Homo sapiens: one gene and its partners. The protein of the gene in region 2 purifies or fractionates together with the protein of the main gene of each other region. This does not show direct contact. Each region holds a gene or a part of one and is shown on either strand. Other genes may lie near its edges. The genes, in order: ZC3H18, SNU13 and ZNHIT3.

What was found.
Region 1: the proteins of SNU13 (region 2) and ZC3H18 purify together in Homo sapiens (affinity purification with mass spectrometry; 2 studies listed by BioGRID and IntAct, with this or other methods). This does not show direct contact.
Region 3: the proteins of SNU13 (region 2) and ZNHIT3 purify together in Homo sapiens (affinity purification with western blotting; 2 studies listed by BioGRID). This does not show direct contact.

Annotation. Positions count from the first base shown.
Region 1 is NC_000016.10:88,594,042-88,602,028, reverse strand, and holds part of ZC3H18 (zinc finger CCCH domain-containing protein 18), read right to left. Parts: intron 3,852-7,987; coding exon 3,703-3,851; intron 3,410-3,702; coding exon 3,317-3,409; intron 2,239-3,316; coding exon 2,081-2,238; intron 1-2,080.
Region 2 is NC_000022.11:41,673,433-41,679,854, reverse strand, and holds the end of SNU13 (NHP2-like protein 1), read left to right. Parts: intron 1-2,694; exon of another isoform or gene 2,695-2,729; coding exon of another isoform or gene 2,730-3,113; exon of another isoform or gene 3,114-4,653; intron 4,654-4,659; coding exon 4,660-4,922; 3' UTR 4,923-5,922; downstream 5,923-6,422. Other genes in the region: protein LLP homolog, read left to right, coding at 2,730-3,113.
Region 3 is NC_000017.11:36,481,359-36,490,279, reverse strand, and holds the start of ZNHIT3 (zinc finger HIT domain-containing protein 3), read right to left. Parts: upstream 3,600-8,921; 5' UTR 3,581-3,599; coding exon 3,495-3,580; intron 3,346-3,494; coding exon 3,314-3,345; intron 1-3,313.

The DNA of each region.
Region 1 (7,987 bases), on a different chromosome or scaffold from region 2:
CTGGCTCCCTCTACTCACTGTTTTCCTCTGTAGCAACCTACCTGGTGGACCCACCCTTCCCTTAGATGCTCTTTGTGACAATCATAGGGGGGTCTCCACCCTCCTGGCAGAACCCTGACAGTTCTTTCCACTGTGTCTATCAGAAACAGCCAGGGCACCTCGCCACTGTGACACATGCACCCTGACCCTGTTCCCAGAGGTCCTGACTCACCAGGTCTCGGGGGAGGCATGGCACAAAAGGCCTCAGGTTAACTGTAACATACACAGAGGCTACTCTATAAAAACAAACAAAATACAAACATACAGAAATACCTGGCTTTCAGACACCAGTGAAAACCTTTCAGCCCTGACTGCCGAGACTTTAACATTTGGGGGTCCTGCAGTGTAGATACCGGCTCCTGGGAGAGAAGCTAGGGAGCCAGGAGCCAGCTTCTGTCACCTGGTGCCAGGATGGGAGACACCTGTTTCTGTAACCAACACTGATAGGTAAAACACACACAGAGGGCACTCCAAAAAACCTCAGAGACCTGCCGAACCACTTCCAAGCAGGCAGTTTTCCGGTCCCTGCTCCAGCCAGGGAAACTGGAAATAGAGTGTCAAGGATCACGCCCAGGTTCTAAAATCCATCCTTCCCCACACATATTTATAGAGACCTCTGTGCACACGAGCTCTGGGGAAGGAAAGACGATATCCACATCTAACAAAAAAACACAAAGGCCTCCAGGGCTTCAGGAGACACCCCTGGTGATCCTGCAGAGTTCTGACTCAAATGCTCCTTTCTGTGATCTGACATTCCACACAAAACTTAATTAGAAAATGTACATGTTAACCAAGTCTTTAAATACCTATCCCTTTAACCTCTAAGCTCTCACCTGCTGGGGCAGGTGTGGGCCACTGGGGCTTCCTCCCCCAACTTCCGCAGGCGGAAAGCCCAGGGTAGCCTGCTCGCGGCAAGAAGGCCTTGAGAAGGGCCTTGCAGGGCCAAGTCGACAGGACCAAATCCTGGAGTGCAAGCCCTGCACGCCTTCCTTTTTTGAGCACCGTTTATTGTCACTCCAGATAGAAATCATAGTGATTATGATTCCCTAATAGCAACCAGAAATGTACAGGGCTGCTAAAGCCTCAGCATGATGGAGTGCCAATTCAGATCTGCCCGAATTATAATCCAGTTCCCTGCCCTGAACCTCACCGTGCCATCCACAGGCAGAGGAAAACAGCACTTTATATGCCATGCAATCCCCCAAGATCTGACTTCCACCCTTCGACCCAGGCACTTCTTCTGTTAAGACAGGATTTTTAAAGACCAGGCATAAAGGGGCTGGGTGCAGTGGTTCACGCCTGTAGTCCCAGCACTCTGGGAGGCAGGCGTGGGTGGATCACTTGAGGTCAGGAGTTCGAGACCATCCTGGCCAACATGGTGAAATCCATCTCTACTAAAAACACAAAACTGAGTTGGGTGTGGTAGCAGACACCTGTAGTTCCAGCTACTCAGGAGGCTGAAGCAGGAGAATCACTTCAACCCAGGGAGGCGGAGGTTGCAGTGAGCCAAGATTGCGCAACTGCACTCCAGCTTGGGCGACAGAGCAAGACTCTGCCTCGGGAAAAAAAACCAAAAAACAAAAACCAGCCATCAATGCCCTGGAGGAGAAGCAGTGAAGGCAGAACAGCCCTGACAGCGAAGAGGCCGCAGCTGTTGTGTTCCTGGCTTGTGGCAACCTCCACACGTTTCCTGGCTCCTGGGTAATGTGGGCAGGGGTGAGGAGCCAGAAACACAGACTTGTGGGGCTCTAGAGGCCTCAAGGACAGCAGCGAAAACTCTCAGAGCTCAGGAACCACAACGGTGTGAGTGCTGCCAGTCAAGGCCCATGGCACAGAGCCCTAACGCTTCCTTCCTAGAAGCAAAAAACTGAGATGAGCTCTGAGAACCGTGCCTGAATGCTCTCAGGAACGTCACTGAGACTCCAGTGAGTGGGGCTGGGTCTCAGCCGAGCGCACCCTGGGGCCCTGCACATGGCTGCTCTCTCCGGAGCGTGGCCGCATGCAGGAAGGAAACGGAGGGGCAGGCAGGGCCATTCCTTACACTGTGTCTCTGACATCTCTCGGGATCCGAGAATTCCAATCTCGAAAAACTTCATTTTCTTTGTCAAATTCCCGTTCGTCTTCGCCAATGGTCACCGTAAACCTTTTCTCTTCAAAATCAGGCTCCTGTTCTTTTCGAATAGTTGCTTTTTTTAAAACCTACCATTGTAAGAAGAAAGAAGTCAACATGGAACAGAATACCGGGCGTCGCTGTTAGGAAACACAAAGGGAGCCGTCCCACCCGACCGCAGCAGCCCTGCAGGAGCAGGAGCTGCACGCTGCAAGTGCTCAAGGGGTGAGGGGCGGACACAGCACAGTTGTCCTTCTGGGGAGGGCAGTCTGTGCCCGTCTCTGCACAAACAGCTGCCCCCGGCCTCCGTGTGCCCACATGAGGTGTTCATCACTTCCTTCAACTACCCTTGGAACTAGATCCAGGGTTCAGTCACTCAGTGACAAGCAGCAGGTGGAGTGGCTGGAGTCTCAGAGGGAAGGAAGTGACATGCCGAGGGAGTGAGAAGGAACATCTTGTCCGTCATTTCCCAGCAGGGAGGCTGACCAGGAAAATGAGGAAGTGGGGCTGGGTGCCAGCAGAGTGGTCCCCAGAGCTGAAGCTCACACACTGGGGCCAACGTGGGCCTAGAGGGAGGAAGTGTGCAGTGATAGGACCAGAAAGCTCCAAGTTTTCTCCAGGAAGAGCAGACACTGAGTCTCAGGAGTGTGGGGTGCAGATCCTGGGGGTGCGGCTCGGGCAGCCTCGCCAGGCTTTCTGTGAGTGGCTGGAGACTGCACCCTGTGCTCCTGGGCAGTGCCAGCTGGGGTGTGGCCCAGTGCTGATCCAGCCCCATGAAGACAGTGGGTATGCCCTGGACTGAACTCCCTGGCCTACTGGGCTGCTGCCTGAGACAGTTAGATATAACTCTCCATCCTTCCGGGCCTGGTGGCGCATGCCTGTAATCCCAGCTACTTGGGAGGCCGAGCAGGAGAATCACATGAACCTGGGAGGCGGAGGCTGCAGTGAGTCGAGTTTGGGCCATTGCACTCCAGCCTGGGCAACAAGAGTGAAACTCTGTCTCCAAAAAAATAAATAAATAAAAAATAAAGAAAGACACCACAGAAACAGACGCCTAACTTCAGAGATTTCTGGGGCTCTCTCTGGACCGAGGAAATCCCAGTTTTGTCAAGAACCACTCCTGTAATAGCATCTTTCTTGTCGGGATTTCTGCTGAATTGTGTTTACCTCCTTTGCATGCCGGAGTCCTCGTTCCCAGGCACTCTCTGTTGGGGGCTCTGGAGGGGGTGGAGGCAAAATTTCATCAACTACCGGCCCACCCTATTGAAAAACGAGAAGGGAGAAGGTGAGAAAGTAAAACTTTCAAGTGTACAGAGAAACCAGACAGTAAAAACATCAACTACAACACAAGCCGGCCGTGTGTGGCCGCTCTCCTTCCACCAAGCCTCACTCCGTCCTCGGAAAGCCGAGGCCTGCTTCCACTCGGGACGACAGAAGCAGCCGAAAGGGGGCACTGAGCCTGTGCTAAGGCACAGTGACTTGTCTTAAGCTTGAGATTCAGACACAGCTCAGTTGGCTGATGTGCTAACAATGAAAGAAGAGGCATCACGCACCCAAGGGTTGGCGGGCATCAGCGGGTGAGGTCCGAGAGGCGGGGCACCATTAGGCGGGAAGGGGTCGGCTTTGGTGATTAGGGAGTAGTTCCCCTTGTCGTTCACTCCAGGGTGTATAAACCTACAATTCATTCCCCAGGTACAGTTCCCTATGGAAACAAAAGTGAGATCAGAAAGGGTCCACAAGAGCCTAATTGCACAAGGGCAGCTGCTGGGGTGGGGGGTGGGAGGGGGCAGAGGCCATGTTTACCCAGGCCTGATGGCGAGCCACACAGTAGTGGGAACTGAACGGGGAGGTGGGCGGGATGAGCCTGGAGAGGCTGAGCCAGACAGCTGCACCTGCCCAGGCACGGCAGTTCCCCAGAGGCTGCCAGGCACCTCGGTCAGAGTGACCACAAAGTCACTTTGTGGAGAGTTCACGCGTATCAACTGTCTGAGTATTAATTTTCCCCTTAAACCAGAAAAGCCCCAGAGCTTTGCTTCCAGCCCTGGCCCAGGCTCATCTAGGTACAACTGGATGTTAATTGTATTTGTGCCGAAACAGACATCAATGAGAAGCATTAACAATGATCAGAAGCCTGCAGGTGTGCTCAGGGTCCCCTTGGCCACCTCTGTACGTCTGCATTTCTCTCACAGAGAAAACTCTCACAGGGCATTTCAAGATATTTCTGGAACTGAAACGGGCTTTTACACTTTGCTCATAAATAACAATCACAAACCTTCATCTTCAACAGAATATCCGGGTTAGTAAAGGAGACCTCGACTTTCAAGTGTAGAATATAAGACATCTAAGTGTCTAACTCAATTACTGAGTGAATCACTTTTTTAAAATGTACTTTTTTGGGAATAGATAATGTGTACACATTGTTTAAAACCAAATATGGCATATAGTATCTAAGCGGTTTAAAAATTTTTTTCAATGGGTTAACATGCAGTTAGATTTTAAATCATTTAAAATTTTAACCTTAAACATCAGGAACACTTAAGCCTGCATTAAAACCAACTCAATACAACATAATAACAATATCGATCCAAATTAAACACGAAAGAAAACTTAAAACTGCTTCTCTGGAAATGCAAAAATGACAAGTAATTTTTAAAATTTCTAAAAGCATTTCAGAGATCACACATAAGTCAAACGAAGTTGGGAGGCCAGGCGTGGTGGCTCACGACGTCAAGAGATCAAGACCATCCTGGCTAACATGGTGAAACCCCGTCTCTACTAAAAAATACAAAAAATTAGCCGGACGTGGTGGCAGGTGCCTGTAGTCCCAGCTACTTGGGAGGCTGAAGCAGGAGAATGGCGTGAACCCAGGAGGTGGAGCTTGCAGTGAGCCGAGATCGTGCCACTGCACTCCAGCCTGGGCAACAGAGCGAGTCTCTCTCAAAAACAACAACAAAAAACAAAAGAGGTTGGGAAATGTTATTCTATAGGGGGTTCAAAAATCCAGAGCCTCAGAGAGATTTAAAGAAAAACTGACTATGCAGTCATCCATCTGAGACTCAACACACTACAGAGCTCTTCATGGTTTGCCTCTGAAAATACTCATGCAGTATTCAAAATCACGTGTGTAACTAAACAAGTAACAAAAGCTCATTGTAAAAAATGTCCAAGTACAGAAAAGTGCTGACAATAGAAACCACAGCTTTTCTGTACTCCTTTTCCTTTTTTTTTCAGATGGAGTCTCACTCTGACTGAGTGAGACAGTCCCAGGCTGGAGTGCAATGATGCAATCTCGGCTCACTGCAACCTCCACCTCCTGGGTGTCAGTGATTCTCCTGCCTCAGCCTCCTGAGTAGCTGGGATTACAGGCGGGTACCACCATGCCAGGCTAATTTTTGTATTTTTAGTAGAGACGGGACTTCACCAACTTGGTCAGGCTGGTCTCGAACTCCTGACCTTGTGATCTGCCAGCCTCGGCCTCCCAAAGTGCTGGGATTACAGGCGTGAACCACCACACTCGGCCTCTGTACTTCTTTTTCATCTAAAATATGTATCTGGGTGGTGGCTAAATGTTATCGTTCTTTTCTGTATTTATGAAAATTTTTAGGACATCACCTACGAACCTACTATCAAAAAAGATCCTTTCTCACTGATATTGGCATGGGGAGAAAAGAGGAACAAGGCAGAAGAGAACAAACCAGTGAGCGCCAAAGAGCAAGCTGAGAAGGCGAGCGTGGGGCTGCCACTAGAGACCAGACACTAGTGGGTGACAGTGTTCAGCTCTCGGGAGCCACCTGCCCGGGGGTGCTGAGCGCTGTCCTGCCCCTGGCCAGAGTAAAGGGGAAGATGGCTCTGGAAAGCAGCACAGTTGGTCTGCACGTCTAGCTGGGACACACTTCCAGCAGACGTCAGGCAGAAAGAACACCATTGTCCCATCTATCTTTTTAAAATGTGAACTTTTATCTGTGTAGGAACACACCCAACTGTCGGGAATGTGGGAAGGGGCTTTAGATTTTATTTTCTTGCCTTCTGCCAGCCCATATTACTTTCTTTCCTTTTTTTAATTTTTTTTTTTTTGAGATGGAGTCTCGCTCTGTTGCCCAGGCTGGAGTGCAGTGGAGCGACCTAGGCTCATTGCAACCTCTGCCTCACAGTTCAAGCAACTCTCCTGCCTCAGCCTCCCGAGTAGCTGGGATTACAGGTGTGCACCACCAAGCCCGGCTAATTTTTGTATTTTTAGTAGTGACAGGGTTTCGCCATGTTAGCCAGGCTGGTCTCAAACTCCTGAAGTCAGGTGATCCGCCCACCTCGGCCTCCCAAAGAGCTGGGATTACAGGTGTCAGCTACCGTCCCCAGCCTTACTTTCATAATTTAAAAAGCAATTTGTTAAAAAAAAAAAAAAAAAAAAGAAAGAAAGAAATTATCCAGAAAATAGAAGCAACAATAAAGATCTTCTGGTTTACAAATGGGACTTCAAACCCAAAATTTATGTGGATTGTGATTCTAACAGTATAAAGATAGTTCTGCGGATACTGTGTACACAGACATGGCCTCAGGCCAGAAGAGGACAAGGAGGGACAGAGGCCGCTGGAGCGGGGCGGAGGCGGCCCCTCCACTGCTGAAATGTCTAAGTACTATTTCTGGCTTCAAGACAGGATGATGGTCTTTTTCTTAACTGGAATGTCGGCACAGCAGCAACTGGTTTTTCTTTTGTTTTGTTTTTGTTTTTTTGAGATGGAGTTTTGTTCTTGTTGCCCAGGCTGGAGTGCAATGGCACAATCTCAGCTCACTGCAACCTCCGCCTCCCAGGTTCAAGTGATTCTCCTGCCTCAGCCTCCCGAGTAGCTGGAATTACAGGCATGCACCACCACGCCTGGCTAATTTTGTATTTTTAGTAGAAACGAGGTTTCTCCATGTTGGTCAGGCTAGTCTTGAGCTTGCGACCTCAGGTGATCCGCCCGCCTCGGCCTCCCAAAGTGCTGGGATTACAGGCATGAACCACCACGCCCAGCCAACTGTTTTATTCTCTTATTAATCTTTACGCTTGTGTAAACACTGTATTATTTTATATATATGAAATATTTCATAATCAAATGAAATACTTGTAAATAAAAAATACCCACCCACTCTAAAAGGTACACTGTGAAGTTGACCACCTATCCCATGCCTCCAGGGCCATTCCCAGAGGCAGTTATCAATATACTGGGGCTCCATCCATCAATCATTGCCCCCTTTTACCTGAGCATATATATTATGCTCTGTGCTGAACCTTGCTTTTTTTCACTAAACAATGTAACTACAGAAAGGGAACCTGCATGCTCAGTAGCAACCAACCCAAACTGGATCAGGGAAACAGACAGGAAACAGATAGGAAACATGGAAAATCCGGAAACTAAACACAGAGGTGGCAGGAACTGAGGCTCAGCTCATGCTCCAGCACAGCCCACACATGAAGTATCTTTAAATGTCTCTTCTGATTTTGAATACAGTAAATATCAATTCCCTGTGTTTACTTGGTTTATATGTGTCATTTCTATTGATACGTACGATATTAGAAATTAAGAGACACTTAAAGATATCTCATTATTTAACAATAACAAGATATCCAATATATAGTAACAAATATTTATGAAACTGTTTTTAAAATATTTGGTGAGAGGAATAGCATTCTTTGCCTTTTTGCGAATCTCTTGAATGCTGACCCTGGAAAACCCCTGGCCTCCCATCTGCATGCGATCGACCATGAAGGGCCGCTGTGGCTCAAGCAGGAGAGGACATTACAGCCCCAGGAAGAGATGCAGCTAGAGAGGGAGGGGCATCTAAAAGCCTTTTCAGTGTGCT
Region 2 (6,422 bases):
CTACCCCTCTCCCTTTTTTTTTTGGATGCAATTATTCAAAAACATGGAACGTTTCACGAATTTGCATGTCATCCTTGTGCAGGGGTCATGCTAATCTTCTCTGTATTGTTCCAATTTTAGTATATGTACTGCTGAAGCGAGCACTACCTCCCTTTGTAAAAAAGGAAAAAAAAAAAGCTGTTTTTCAGTAGAATAATTATGTATGCATGATGCTTCTGCCCAGAGGTGATATAGGATACTCTCACTTTATTCATTATTATTTTTTTAATTTTATTTTATTTATTTATTTATTTTTTTATTTGGAGAGTTTTGCTCTTGTTGCCCAAGCTGGAGTGCCATGGCAGGATCTCAGCTTACTGCAACCTCCGCTTCCCGGGTTCAAATGATTCTCCTGCCTCAACCTCCCAAGTAGCTGGGATTACAGGCATGCACCACCACGTCCAGCTAATTTTGTATTTTTAGTAAAGATGGGGTTTCACTATGTTGGTCAGTCTGGTCTCGAACTCCTGATCTCAGGTGATCTACCTGCCTTGGCCTCCCAAAGTGCTGCTGGGATTACAGGCGTGAGACACTGTGCCCAGCCTTATTTTTATTTTTATTTTTTTTCAAGTAGAGACGAGGTTTCACCATGTTGGCCAGGCTGGTCTCGAACTCCTGACCTGAAGTGATCCGCCTGCCTTGGCCTCCCAAAATTCTGGGATTACAGGCGTGAGCCACTGTGCCCGGCTGCCCAGCCTTATTTTTATTTTATTTTATTTTTTTGGAGACAGAATCTCGCTCTGTCGCCCAGGCTGGTCTTAAACTCCTGAGCTCAGGCAATCTGCCTGCCTTGGCCTCCCAAAGTGTTAGGATAACAGCAGGCGTGAGCTACCATGCCCAGCCAGAATACTCTCATTTTAATAGATGCTGGGTAGTTTGATGTGGTAGAGCTCTTTTGTCGTTGAAGATTTTTAATGGAAACATCAGAGATTTTGTCAACTGTGTTTGAGATTTAGGAGAACTATTACAATCGCTTTTACCTGTGTTGCTGAAGGAAGATAAAGTAGACTCTGTGGGTCTCGTCGTAGTGCTCTTTCCTCCCTGCTCGTCACACTGCAGTAACTGCAGTGCCTGGTATAGCAGTGGCCAGTGGGGCATTGTAGGGTGACCCACCAGCTCTCCTGGGAGGTCTCTCTTCTCACTTGATGCACTCAGGTCAGCTTGGCTGGGCAGGGATGTGACTTCTTACACTTCAGGTAGATGAGGACTCATGGACACAGAGCAACCTTATTTCCTCTTGCCATACTTTGCACGGTGATAAGCACACAGGTCCTTGAATGGAGATGCTCAGTCTCAGCGACTTAATTCAGAATATGCTTACTGGGAGTTCAGGGAGGGAGATGCAACAATTTTCCGTACTTCTGCCTCAGTGTCAGGTATTCTTTCTTGCCATATTTATTGATTGCCTGCTATGTGCCAGGCGCATGTATATATGCTGATGATGCACTGGTGAACAAAATGAAGTCTCTGCCTTCTTGGAGTATACATTCCAGTGGAGAAAGACATAGGTTTTATGCCTGGTGGTAAAGAATGCTGTAAGAGGCCGGGCGCGGTGGCTCACACCTGTAATCCCAGCACTTTGGGAGGCCGAGGTGGGCAGATCATGAGGTCAGGAGATCGAGACCATCCTGGCTAACACGGTGAAACCTCATCTCTACCAAAAATACAAAAAATTAGCCGGGCGTGGTGGCGGGCGCCTATAGTCCCAGCTGCTCAGGAGGCTGAGGCAGGAAAATGGTGTGAACCCGGGAGGCGGAGCTTGCAGTGAGCCGAGATCTCACCACTGCACTCTAGCCTGGGCGACAGAGTGAGACTCCGTCTCAAAAAAAAAAAAAAGAATGCTGTAAAACAGAATAAAGTAGAGAAGGGGGATAGGAATGGCAGTGGTGGGTCTTTTTAGATGGAGTATTCAGAGAAGGTCTGTCTGAGGAGTTTGAGCAGAGAACTGAATAGATGAGGGTGTTGGAAAGAAACGTTTTTGGGCATGGTGTAAAGGCATGCTTGAGGGATTCTAAGGAGGCTGGTGTGTGGCTGGAACTAAGTGTGGGGATGAGAGGTACTAGGAGATCACATGAGACCATGTAGGCCACTGTTAGCAGTGAGTACAATGGTAAATGAGTAGAAGGATTTTGAACAGCAAGATTGCTATGATCTTACTTAACACTTATAAAAGAGTCACTCCTATGACTTTTGTAGGGTGAGTAAGCTATAGTAATATCAATAGAAATGAACATGCTTTGCATTTGCCATGTGTCAGGTATTATTATTATTATTTATTTTACTTTTTTTTGAGATAGGGTCTTACTCTGCAGCCCAGGCTGGAGTGCATTGGCATTGATCATGGCTCACTGCAGCCACGACCTCCTGGGCTTAGGTGATCCTCCCACCTCAGCGTCCCAGGTAGCTGGAACTACAGGTGTACGCCACCACACCTGGCTAATTTTTTATATTTTTAGTAGAGATGGGGTTTTGCCATGTTGCCCAGGCTGGTCTCAAACTCTGAGTTCAAACAATCTACCTGCCTCAGCCTCCCAGTGGGCTGGGATTACAGGTGTGAGCCACCATGCCCAGCCTCATCATTCTTATTAACTGGTTTAATCCTTTCAATAATCCTATTAAGTAGAATTATTAGGTAATTAGAATTAGGTTAAAAAGAGCTGAGGTGTGGGTGTTCGTTTCTCAGGTGAAACATGGCTAAAAGCTTACGGAGTAAGTGGAAAAGAAAGATGCGTGCTGAAAAGAGAAAAAAGAATGCCCCAAAGGAGGCCAGCAGGCTTAAAAGTATTCTCAAACTAGACGGTGATGTTTTAATGAAAGATGTTCAAGAGATAGCAACTGTGGTGGTACCCAAACATTGCCAAGAGAAAATGCAATGTGAGGTAAAAGATGAAAAAGATGACATGAAAAGGGAGACTGATACTAAGAGAAACAAAAAGACTCTTCTAGACCAGCATGGACAGTACCCAATATGGATGAACCAAAGGCAAAGAAAAAGGCTGACGGCAAAGCGAGAGAAAAGAAAGGGGAAAAGCAAAGCAAAAGCAGTGAAAGTGGCAAAGGGTTTGGCGTGGTAGACTCTTAAAACCTTGGAAAATGCCACATGGGATAGATGATGGATTAGAATGTATATACATGTATACTTTGATTTCAGCTGCCACCAAATGAAAACCATTTGTTTTCCTATTTTAACTTGGCCTTTTTTCTTCAATTCAAACCCAGCATAACTCCTGAAGTTTGTTTTGGGAACTTGAATAAAATATTTTCTTTGATACAAAAAAAAAAAAGAATTAGGTTAAAAAGAATTAGGTAATTCTTTTTTTATTAGGTAGAATCCTGTTAGGTAGAATTATTTTATAGATGATAAAAGTAAGGGAAGTTAAACACCTTGCTCAAGGTCATTTGTGTAACAAGAATGAGTGCCAGCATTTGCACTCAGACAGTGTAGCTCTAGAGTGTGTGCCCTTCTCAAGTACTCCAGCATGAATGCAGAGTATTCGCACTGAGCCACAGAGGCAAGCAGTCAGGAGAGTACGCATCTGAAACGGTGCTGTGGGGTGTTGAACTTGCATGGTGAGTCGCATGTGGGATCAGCTTTCTAGAAGTATTGATTATGGCAGATTGAGATGGTAAAACTCTGACTCTCAGTCACAGATACCTTGAGAAATACTATATTATTAATATACTACTACTTGCTGGTGGGGGTTTGTGGAAGCTGTTGCAGTTGACAAGGTAAGAGATGATGGTGACTTGGACGAGTATAGCAGAGGAGTAGAAAGAAGTGGTCAGGGCCAGGCGTGGTGGCTCATGCCTGTAATCACAGCACTTTGGGAGGCCAAGGTGGGTGGATCACAAGGTTAGGAGTTTGAGACCAGCCTGGCCAACATAGTGAAACAAAAAATTAGCTGGGCATGGTGGCAGGCACCTGTAATCCCAGCTACTTGGGAGGCTGAGGCAGGAGAATCACTTGAACCTGGGAGGCAGAGGTTGCAATGAGCCAAGATTGCGCCATTGCACTCCAGCCCGGGCGACAGTGTGAGACTCCATCTCAAAAAAAGAAAAAAAAAAAAAAAAGAAAGAAAAAAGTTGTCAGATTAGGACAGGCACAGTGGCTCATACCTGTAATTTCAGCACTTTGGGAGGCCGAGGTGGGTGGATCACTTGAGGTCAGGAGTTTGAGACCAGCCTGGACAACATGGTGAAGCCCTCTCTCTACTAAAAATACAAAAATTAGCTAAACACAGTGGCACGTGCCTGTAATCCCAGCTGCTTGGGAGACTGAGGCAGGAGAATCACTTAAACCCGGGAAGCGGAGGTTGAAGTGAGCCAAGATCGCACCACTGCACTCCAGCTGTGTGACAGAGCAAGACTCCATCTCAAAAAAAAAAAAGAAGAAGAAGAAGTGGTCAGATTCAGGACGTGTTTTGAGGATAAGTGGTGGATTTAATGTAGGGCTTGAGAAAATGCCATTGTGTATGACTGACTGGTGTTTGAATCCTTTATCATATCCCAGGGCCGGTCTAGGACACATAATTGTGTGTGCCTAGGCATTCTTCCCAGTTTGTTGTGGCTGCCCTGCCCAAGCCCACATCACCTATTAGCTTCACGTCCTTCTCTCCGCAGCCACCAAAACCCTCAACAGGGGCATCTCTGAGTTCATCGTGATGGCTGCAGACGCCGAGCCACTGGAGATCATTCTGCACCTGCCGCTGCTGTGTGAAGACAAGAATGTGCCCTACGTGTTTGTGCGCTCCAAGCAGGCCCTGGGGAGAGCCTGTGGGGTCTCCAGGCCTGTCATCGCCTGTTCTGTCACCATCAAAGAAGGCTCGCAGCTGAAACAGCAGATCCAATCCATTCAGCAGTCCATTGAAAGGCTCTTAGTCTAAACCTGTGGCCTCTGCCACGTGCTCCCTGCCAGCTTCCCCCCTGAGGTTGTGTATCATATTATCTGTGTTAGCATGTAGTATTTTCAGCTACTCTCTATTGTTATAAAATGTAGTACTAAATCTGGTTTCTGGATTTTTGTGTTGTTTTTGTTCTGTTTTACAGGGTTGCTATCCCCCTTCCTTTCCTCCCTCCCTCTGCCATCCTTCATCCTTTTATCCTCCCTTTTTGGAACAAGTGTTCAGAGCAGACAGAAGCAGGGTGGTGGCACCGTTGAAAGGCAGAAAGAGCCAGGAGAAAGCTGATGGAGCCAGGACAGAGATCTGGTTCCAGCTTTCAGCCACTAGCTTCCTGTTGTGTGCGGGGTGTGGTGGAATTAAACAGCATTCATTGTGTGTCCCTGTGCCTGGCACACAGAATCATTCATACGTGTTCAAGTGATCAAGGGGTTTCATTTGCTCTTGGGGGATTAGGTATCATTTGGGGAGGAAGCATGTGTTCTGTGAGGTTGTTCGGCTATGTCCAAGTGTCGTTTACTAATGTACCCCTGCTGTTTGCTTTTGGTAATGTGATGTTGATGTTCTCCCCCTACCCACAACCATGCCCTTGAGGGTAGCAGGGCAGCAGCATACCAAAGAGATGTGCTGCAGGACTCCGGAGGCAGCCTGGGTGGGTGAGCCATGGGGCAGTTGACCTGGGTCTTGAAAGAGTCGGGAGTGACAAGCTCAGAGAGCATGAACTGATGCTGGCATGAAGGATTCCAGGAAGATCATGGAGACCTGGCTGGTAGCTGTAACAGAGATGGTGGAGTCCAAGGAAACAGCCTGTCTCTGGTGAATGGGACTTTCTTTGGTGGACACTTGGCACCAGCTCTGAGAGCCCTTCCCCTGTGTCCTGCCACCATGTGGGTCAGATGTACTCTCTGTCACATGAGGAGAGTGCTAGTTCATGTGTTCTCCATTCTTGTGAGCATCCTAATAAATCTGTTCCATTTTGATGACAGAATGGCAGTGCCTGATTCTTAGTAAGTATCCGGCTAAAATTGGAATGAAGACATACTTAGCTTTACTAGAGTGGTGATAGCTGCTTAAGACTTTTTTTTTCTTCTTTGTGAAAGAGTTTCACTCTTGTTGCCTAGGCTGGAGTGCAATGGCACGATCTCGGCTCACTGCAGCCTCTGCCTCCTGGGTTCAAGTGATGCTCCTGCCTCAGCCCCCAAAGTAGCTGGGATTACAGGCGTGCGTCACCACGCCCAGCTAATTTTGTATTTTTAGTAGAGACAGGGTTTCACCATGTTGGCCAGGCTGGTCTTGAACTCCTGACCTCAGGTAATCTGCCTGTCTCAGCCTCGCAAAGCGCTGGGATTACAGGTGTGAGCCACCACGCCTGGCCACTTGCTTAGACTTTTTTTTACCAGAAGGCTATGGAAGAGCTGTCTCCTCCTACCAGGTAGTTTCTACCTTGGCAGTTCAAAATGTCGTCTTATACACACTCAACTGGAG
Region 3 (8,921 bases), on a different chromosome or scaffold from region 2:
AATGAAACTAGATCCTTATCTGTCACCATATATAAATATCAAAATGGATTAAAGACCTAAATGTAAGACCTGAAACTACTACAAGAAAACACAGGGGAAATGCTTCAGGACATTGGTCTAGGCAAAGATTTTATGAATAAAATCTCAAAAACACAGGCAAGAAAAGCAAAAATAGGCAAATGGAATTCTATTACACAAAAAAGCTTCTGTACAACAAAGGAAACAATAGAATGAAGAGACAACCCACAGGATGGGAGAAAATATTTGCAAAATATTCACTTGACAAAGGATTAATATCTAGAATACACAAGGAGCTCAACAGCCAAAAAAAAAAAAAAAAAAAAATTAAGTGGACAAATGGGCCGGGCATGGTGGCTCACCCCTGTAATCCCAGCCCTTTGGGAGGCCGAGGCAGGTGGATCACCTGAGGTCAAGAGCTCAAGACCAGCCTGGCCAACATGGTGAAACCTTGTCTCTACTAAAAATACAAAAATCAGCCAGCAGGCACCTGTAATCCCAGCTACTTTGGAGGCTGAGGCAGGAGAATCACCTGAACCCTGGAAGCGGAGGTTGCAGTAAGCAGAGACTGCGCCACTGTACTCCAGCCCGGGCGACAAGAGCAAGACTCTGTCTCAAAAAGAAAAAAAAAAAAAATGGGCAAATGAGCCAAACAGACACTTCTCAAAAGAAGACATATAAATGGCCAACAAGTACATGAAAAAATGTTCAACATCACTAATTATTAGGGACATGCAAGTCAAGACCACAATGAGGTATCATCTCACCACAGTAAGAATGGCTATTATCAAAAAGAAAAAAACATGTTGGCAAGGATGTGGAGAAAAGGGAACTCTTATACACTGCACTGTTATTGGGAATGTAAATTAGTATAGTCATTATGGAAAACAGCATAGAGGTTCCTAAAAAAAAACTACGAATAGAACTACCATATGATCCAGCAATCCCACTACTGTATATATATCCAAAGGAAATGAAATCAGTCTGCCGAAGAGATACCTGCACTCCTGCGTTTACTGCTAGTCACAACAGCCAAGATAAGGAATGAACCTAAGGATCCACCAACAGATGGATAAAGAAATGCGGTACATATATACACTGGATATTAGCCATAAAAAACCATGAAATCCTGTCACTTGCAGGAACATGGATGAGCCCAAAGAACATAATGTTAAGTGAAACAAGCCAGGCACCATAAGATGTTCTTGTTAACATGTGGATGCTAAGCAAGTTGATTTCACAGAAGTAGAGAGCAGAATAGTGGTAACTGGAGGCTAGGAAGAGTAGAGTGTAGGGGGCTAGGGAGAAGTTGCTTAATGGATACAAAATTACAGCTAGATGGGAGGAATAAGTTCTAGTGTTACACAGTACCTTAGTGTGACCATGTTGGCAGCAATTTATACTTTCAAATAGCTACAAGAGAGGATTGCGAGTGTTCCCAACATGAAGAAATGATTATTTGGGGCGAATATGCTAATTACCCTAATTTGATCCTTAAACATTGTATACAGGTATCGAAGTATCACACTGTAACTCAAATTGTATGCAATTATGTGTCAATTAAAAACAAATATTAAAAAGAAAAATCAACCAATAGGAGGCTTTATATAAATAATGGTCGTACCAACTATATAATGAAATAACATACAGTCCTTTAAGTCAGTGAGCTAGAACTTGTATGCACTAGTCTTTATTTTTAATTTTTTTAATTTTTTTTTAGATGGAGTCTCACTCTGTTGCCCAGGCTGGAGTGCAGTGGTGCAGTCTTGGCTCACTGCAACCTGCGTCTCCATGGTTCAAGCAATTATCCTGCCTCAGCCTCCTAAGTAGCTGGGATTACAGGCGCGCACCTCCACACCCAGCTTATTTTTGTATTTTTAGTAGAGATGTGGTTTCATAATGTTGGCCAGGCTGGTCTCGAACTCCTGACCTCAGGTGATCCACCCACCTTGGCATCCCAAAGTGCTGGGATTACAGGCATGAGCCACTGCGCCCAGCCTGTATGCACTAGGTTTTAAAAAGTGCCCAATATATAAACTCAAATGAGGATGTTGGGTACAGTCTCATTGCTGAGATTCTAAAAGCTAAAAAAAAAAGTTCTATATATTGGTACAAGAGTGGAAATAAGCTGAAAGAATCTACATCAAGCTTTTTTTTTTTTTTTTTTTGAGACAGTCTTGCTGTCTCCCAGGCTGGAGTGCAGTGGTACGATCCTGGCTCACTGCAACCTCCTCCTCCCAGGCTCAAGCGATCTTCCCACCTCTGCTTCCTGAGTAGCTGGGACCACTGGCACAGGCCACCACGCCTGGCTTTGTTTGTTTATAGAGACGGGGTTTCGCTATGTTGCCCAGGCTGGTCTCAAACTCCTGAGCTCAAATGATCCGCCCGCCTCGGCCTCCCAAAGTGCTGGGATTACAGGCGTGACCCACCGCGCCCCACCTACATCAAACTTTTTTTTTTCTTTTTTTTTCCAGACTGAGTCTGGCTCTGTAGCCCAGGCTGGAGTGCAGTGGTGCGATTTCGGCTCACTACAACCTCCGCCTCCCGGGTTCAAGCGATTCTCCTGCCTCAGCCTCCTGAGTAGCTGGGATTACAGGCGCGCACCTCGCCCGCCTAATTTTTGTATTTTTAGTAGAGACGGAGTTTCACCATGTTGGCCAGGCTGGTCTCGAACTCCTGGGCTCAGGTGATCCACCCGCCTTGGCCTCTCAAAGTGCCGGGACCACAGGCGTGAGCCACCGCGCCCGGCCAGGTCACTTCTTTTTAACTGTACAAAAGTGTGTTCACATCATACACAGAACTTACTTGGTTCTTTTTTTCTCTTAACAAATCAAGGACGTCTCCTTGTATTGTACATGGACTTACCTCTTTGTTTCTAACAAGACATTATTTACACGAGTGAAAATACTGTTAAAGTTAGCGCAGTTTCAGCCAAATGGTGAGGGGCTACATCAGAATACTGAGGAAGAAACTGCTAGGGTAGACCTCGGTGGGAAAAGCAATCGGAAACTATTTCTAAGCAAAAAAGAGTAACACGCAGAAGGAGAAGCGGGGTAGAAGAAAGGCTACTGACCAAAACCCTGAGAGCGATTACAGGCAGGGACAACAGAGGGAACTGTCCGACACACAGAGACACCAGGGACCAAGTCAGAGGAAGCAAGGTTCCTGCAGAACCCGCGGAGACCCGAGGCGGGAAAGGAAGCGCAGCCCAAGGGTCCACGCCCCCAAGACGGAGGCTGGACGTGGGGGCTGCCCCGTGCGCAGTGGTACGAGGGCTGGCGGGGACGGGGCTCACCTTTGTGCTTCCGGAAGCAGACTACCGAGCAGCTGTAACAACAGAGGCCACAGGCCGCGTCAGCCCCGAGGGTCCCCGGCCCCTCCAGCAGCCCGCCCGCTCCCGCCCGGCCTCCCGGCCTCCCGCCCTCCCGCCATGGCCGGACACCCGCGCCCCTGGACCCCGCGACCTCCCCGCTCACTAGGGCACGCGGCAGGCTGGACAGCGGTATTTGGGCTTCTCCAAGCAGATCACGCAGACGACGGTGCTACATTTGAGCGACGCCATGGTTTTGTGGAAGGAGACTGTTCACTGCGCCGCCGCGCGCCTCTCACGCAGCCGCGCCCGCGTGCACGCCCCTTTTTCCGTTTCCTAAACGGGGACCAATCAGCGCTCAGCAGGTAGGCAAAAGCAATGGACTGATCCTGCTCACTGTTCCAGCCCTCGTACTTAGAGCGTCGATACACTCGATGCGCATCTATTAGCTGCGTCCCAGGTTTTCCTTGATTAGATCACAGCGTCGAAGAACTTGTTATGTAGCCCAGTCCCTGTCCCTATGCGGCCGTGTGGCTTGGAGCAAGCCATCGACACTGTCCAGGTGTGTTGCCCCGCATGTAAAAAAGAAAACAATACATGGAACTAAACGTCCTTTACTTTCTGGCTGGGACTTCCTGAATCTTGCAGGGACATTGGGGTTCATCCGCCCATCTCATCTGCTTATTCTTGGCAAAGGACAAGTCCAGACATTGGGCGAACCAGAATCGGTTGGATCACGCAGTAGACAGGAACCTGCCCTTCCCAACCTAGACCATTTTTCACTGGGGAAAGAAAGATGAGCCTGAACAGTGGCAAATGTTTGAGCTCCAACTGTGAGCCCTTCCGGGCTGGGGACCCCCCGGGGTCTTCTAATGAAGAAGTCGTCTCTGTCCCCTGGGAACTAAATGCTTAGAGTGAAAGTAGGACGGGGAAACGGGGAGGAAAGAGACTCACTCTTAGAGTCCTGCCGTCGCTACCCTGCACCTGCACGCCCCTGAGACTGAGTGCTTCTTAAATTTTGCACTCTAGGCTCCTCACACCTCCCCCTAGTCCCGGAAGCTAATTGACCAGGAAGCAGGCCAGTGACCACTAGTCCCAAGACGGGGATCCCAGGCAGATGAGTCTGGATAGATGGGCTATGATGGGACTTGAATGCCACCACAAACTTTAGGTTTAGAAAAAGTAATGTTTTTTGTTGTTTGTTTTTTAAGGAAATTTGCTTGCAGCTAGGCATGGCCCAGCCTTACCTTAGCTCCCATCCTACCTGCACTGGGCCCTCCCAGGGCCATAAATCACCCTTACTCCCAAGTGCCTCCTCTTCTGTGTTGGCCGTTCAGCCTTCAGGGTCCCTCTTCAATAAAGGTGTCTGCAGGGATGTATCTGCAACAACCGAGGCAGTGGTTTGAACCTTGGCTCAACCCCCTCCCTGGCTGTGTGACCTGGAGGGGTTGGTTACCCCCTCTGAGCTCCCTCATCTATTAAAGTGGATGTTTGGGCCTACTTTCCTGAGCTGTTGTAAAGCAGAGAGGAGACCATGTGCAAAAGTTTTGTAATCAGAAGTGCTACCTGATATCTAGAAAGAGTCTTAACTCTCATGGATCTCCGTCTGGACCGCATGAACATAGGTCCCAGGCCCCAAGCCATGCTCTCCAAAACAGTTCTGCCGCCTGCTTCTTGAGTGGGAGGTGAGTAATTATCCTTCCTTTGGGCGTGGCGACCCAGTCCAGTCCTCAGTGCTGAAGCTGCTGGGCCCTCTGGCCACCTGCCTGTCCTGCTTGCAGCTGCCCCAGCCTCCAACTTCTGCCCAGGACCCAGCTTAGAATCCAAAACGGGTCCACACAGGCCCAGTAACCCGCAGCGTTCCTCATATTGTTCAACAGTTGTACCACTGATGATTTGAACTTGAAGCATCCCAGAAAGTCCAAGCTTACCTGGGAAGGCCAGAGAAGGCCAGTGACTTGTCCAGGGCCATATTTAAATCCTGTGCCAAGTCGGGCATGGTCGCATCAGCCTGTAGTCCCAGCTACTTAGAAAGTTGAGGCTGGAGGCTCACTTGAGCCCAGGAGTTCAAGGCTGCAGTGAGCTATGATTGTGCCACTGCATTCCAGCCTGGATGACAGAGAGAGAGAGACCCCGTCTTAAAGACGAAAAATTTAGGCCAGGCGCAGTGGCTCACGCCTGTGATCCCAGCACTTTGGGAGGCCAAAGCAGGCAGATCACTTGAGGCCAGGAGTTCAAGACCAGCCTGGCTAACATAGCAAAACCCTGTCTGTACTAAAAATAGAAAAAATTAACTGGGTGTGGTGGTGCACGCCTGTAATCCCAACTACTAGAGAGGCTGAGGCACAAGAATCGCCGGAACTCTAGAGGCAGAGATTGTAGTGAGCCAAGATCATGCCACTGCACTCCAGCCTGGGCGACAGAGCAAGACTCTGTCTCTAAAAATTAAAAAAAAAAAAATTTAATTTAAAATCCTGTGCCCCACCAGGTAAGGTGGCTCACGCCAGTAATCCTAGCACTTTGGGAGGCCAAGGCGGGCACATGGCTTGAGCCCAGGAGTTCAAGACCAGCCTGGGCAACATGGCAAAAACCCATCTCTACCCAAAAAGATACAAAAATTAGCGGGGGGCAGTGGCTTGAGCCTGTAATCCCAGCTACTGGGGAGGCTGAGGTGGGAAAATCGCTTGAGCCCAGGAGGTGGAGGTTGCAGTGAGTGGAGATCACGCCACTGCACTCCGGCCTGGGTGACAGAGCAGGACCTTGTCTCAAAAGGAAGAGAGAGAGAGAAAAAAAAACAAAAGATCCTGTACACTGTCTGGCACGGGTAGAAATTTGCCCACTGTGGCGGACTCACCACTGTCTGCTTGATTTGTCCTGTGATGTGTGTACCAAGGCTGAGGCCAGAGACAATCCTAACCATTTTCAGGGGCTCAGTCCCTCCCACCTGCATACAAACCACGCTGACTCCCTATCTGCGAGTGGAGAGATGATGACTCCAGAAAAAAAAAAGAAAAAAGAAAATTCGGCCAGGCGCGGTGGCTCACGCCTGTAATCCCAGCACTTTGGGAGGCCAAGGCGGGCAGATCACGAGGTCAGGAGATCGAGACCATCCTGGCCAACATGGTGAAACCCCCGTCTCTACTAAAATACAAAAAATTAGCCAGGTGTGGTGGCACGCGCCTGCAGTCCCAGCTACTAGGGAGGCTGAGGCAGGGGAATCCCTTGAACCCGGGAAGCGGAGGTTGCAGTGAGCCCAGATCGCGCCACTGCACTCCAGCTTGGTGACAGAGCGAGACTCCATCTCAAAAGAAAAGAAAATTAAATTCCTGGAATCCTTCCCATGCACATCCACGCAGGGAAGAGGCCCCTCCTCTACTCTGGATATCTGGATGCCCCCAGCTTTCCCCGACCTTCGCACCCCTCGTCCTCTAATGTCCGGGAAAGGAGGTGGGCTCAGCCGCGATGGCGGTTAGGTGGTGGCACACTAAGGCGCACAGCGCAGCTCCTCCGGGCAGTGGCCAGTTCAGACAAGAAAGGGGGCTGTGACCCCAGGCCCAGCAACTAGATGTCCACACTGATGTCCCCTCCAGACCCGTCCTAATGGCCACCCAGGGCTGTCTTGGGCCTCCTTGGCGTCAGCCTGGGACGCAGTGCGGGCACTGAAGAGAGAGGCGTCGTTGTCGAGGTTTTCAGAGCTCTGCCTCCTGGCAGCGCTGTCCGGTGCGTTGAAGGCGAGTCCGGGCCAATCCCAAGGCTGGAGACGCGCAACGCCGCGCACCGTCCCGCCAGAGGGCGCTCCAGGCCCGCACTGCCCGGGTGGAGCGCGCTCGCCCGGATTCCCGCGCAGCTGGCGCCCCGCCTGCGCCCCACCACGTGCGGGGAGGCTCAGCGGTCTGGTAGCGCTGGGAAGACCAAGTCCATGCTCTGATATGCACTTCGGACATCGCCAGGCGGCAGGAAAGTGCGTCTAGAGCGCGGGGGCGAAGCGGGCGACCCGATGCCCACGAGTGTTCCTACGGGAAAGCAGGGCCTGCGCTCTCCGAGGTCTCCGCGTGCCACTGGCTGTCCGGGGGCTGTTCCCCGCGGTGCCCACCGCCCCGCGCTTGCGGACAGCTCCTGGGGGCGGAGTGCCCGCTGACAGCTGGCCGGCCGCCCGCAGTAGCCTGGTGAAAGTTGAACCACACTTCCAGAGCATGTGGGTTGCTCGCTAGGGCGCGATCCGCTGCCTTCCACCCTCCTGGCCTCCCGCGATGAGGCAGGCAGATCGGCCTAATCTCCCCTACGTGCTGTGTGGCCCTTGTTAGAGGCGGAGGTTGATAAGGGCGAGCCCTGCTAGATCTCAGCTCCTTTCCGCAGCTCTGACACTTGCATTTCTCCCCCAGGGCACGGATGAGCCAGGGCCAGCACCAGAAGTGACTTTTAGGGACTGCTGCCACGTTCTCACCTGCATGCCTCCGTTTCCCCTCTGGTATCTAAGAGAGAGTAATTCAGGTGTTAAAGTGAGTGACGTTGCCGGTGGGAGTCAAATGAAGGAGACCTGAGTTCTGGTGGAGTGGGTGGGCCCAGTTGGTGTCCAACAACTCTGCATATTATTTCATACTCATGAAATTATATCCATCCTCCAACTCTAGACTAAATGACAATATGACCTGCAGTTAGACTTCACGGAGAACTTCCAAAATACAAAAGGGATACAGAACAATTGCATTCCCCACAATCCCAGAACTGTTGGGAGAGCACAGACAACAGAGGTCACCATTGCTCCCTGAACACACCCTACCAGCCACAACCCCACATTTTTCTTTTCTCACACTCACTCCCATTTGCAAATGCACATCGATCTTCCACCTGACATTCCCAAGGACACACAGAGATGCGAGGAGTCAGAGCTACCCGACCAGCTTCCCCAAGAAGCCTCTAAAGGTGCCCTGTGGAGTGGGCGTGCAGCGCGTCAAGCTTTTCACAAACCTCTGAACCCATCTCCACCTCCCACATGGCAGCAGTGCATAAGAACTCTGCTCAGTGAGGGGCGGGGAAGAGGAACTGAGACCCCAGGTTTATTTCCTTATCATTTAAAAATGAGGACAAGAAACAGATTTTTTTAGACAAAACCCAACAGGATTCTTCACTAGCAGATCTACGCTACAAGAAATGTTAGTTATTCGGGCAAAAGGAAAATGACATGAGATGGAAATTTGGATCTGCACAAAGGAGTACCAAAAATTGTAAACCTATAGGTAAAATCAAAAAAACATTTTTACTTTTTGGGGGTTTTTTTTGTTTTTTTTTTTTGTTTTTTTGAGACAATGTGTCATTCCGTCACCCAGGCTGGAGTGCAATGGCGCGATCCCAGCTCACTGCAACCTCCGCCTCCCAGGTTCAAGCGATTCTCCTGCCTCAGCCTCCCAAGTAGCTACGACTACAGGTGCCCGCCACCACGCCCGGCTAATTTTTGTATTTTTAGTAGAGACGGGGTTTCACCATGTTGGCCAGGCTGGTCTCGAACTCCTGACCTCAGGTGATCCACCCGCCTTGGCCTTCCAAAGTGCTGGGGATTACAGGTGTGAGCCACCACGCCCGGCCCATTTTTACC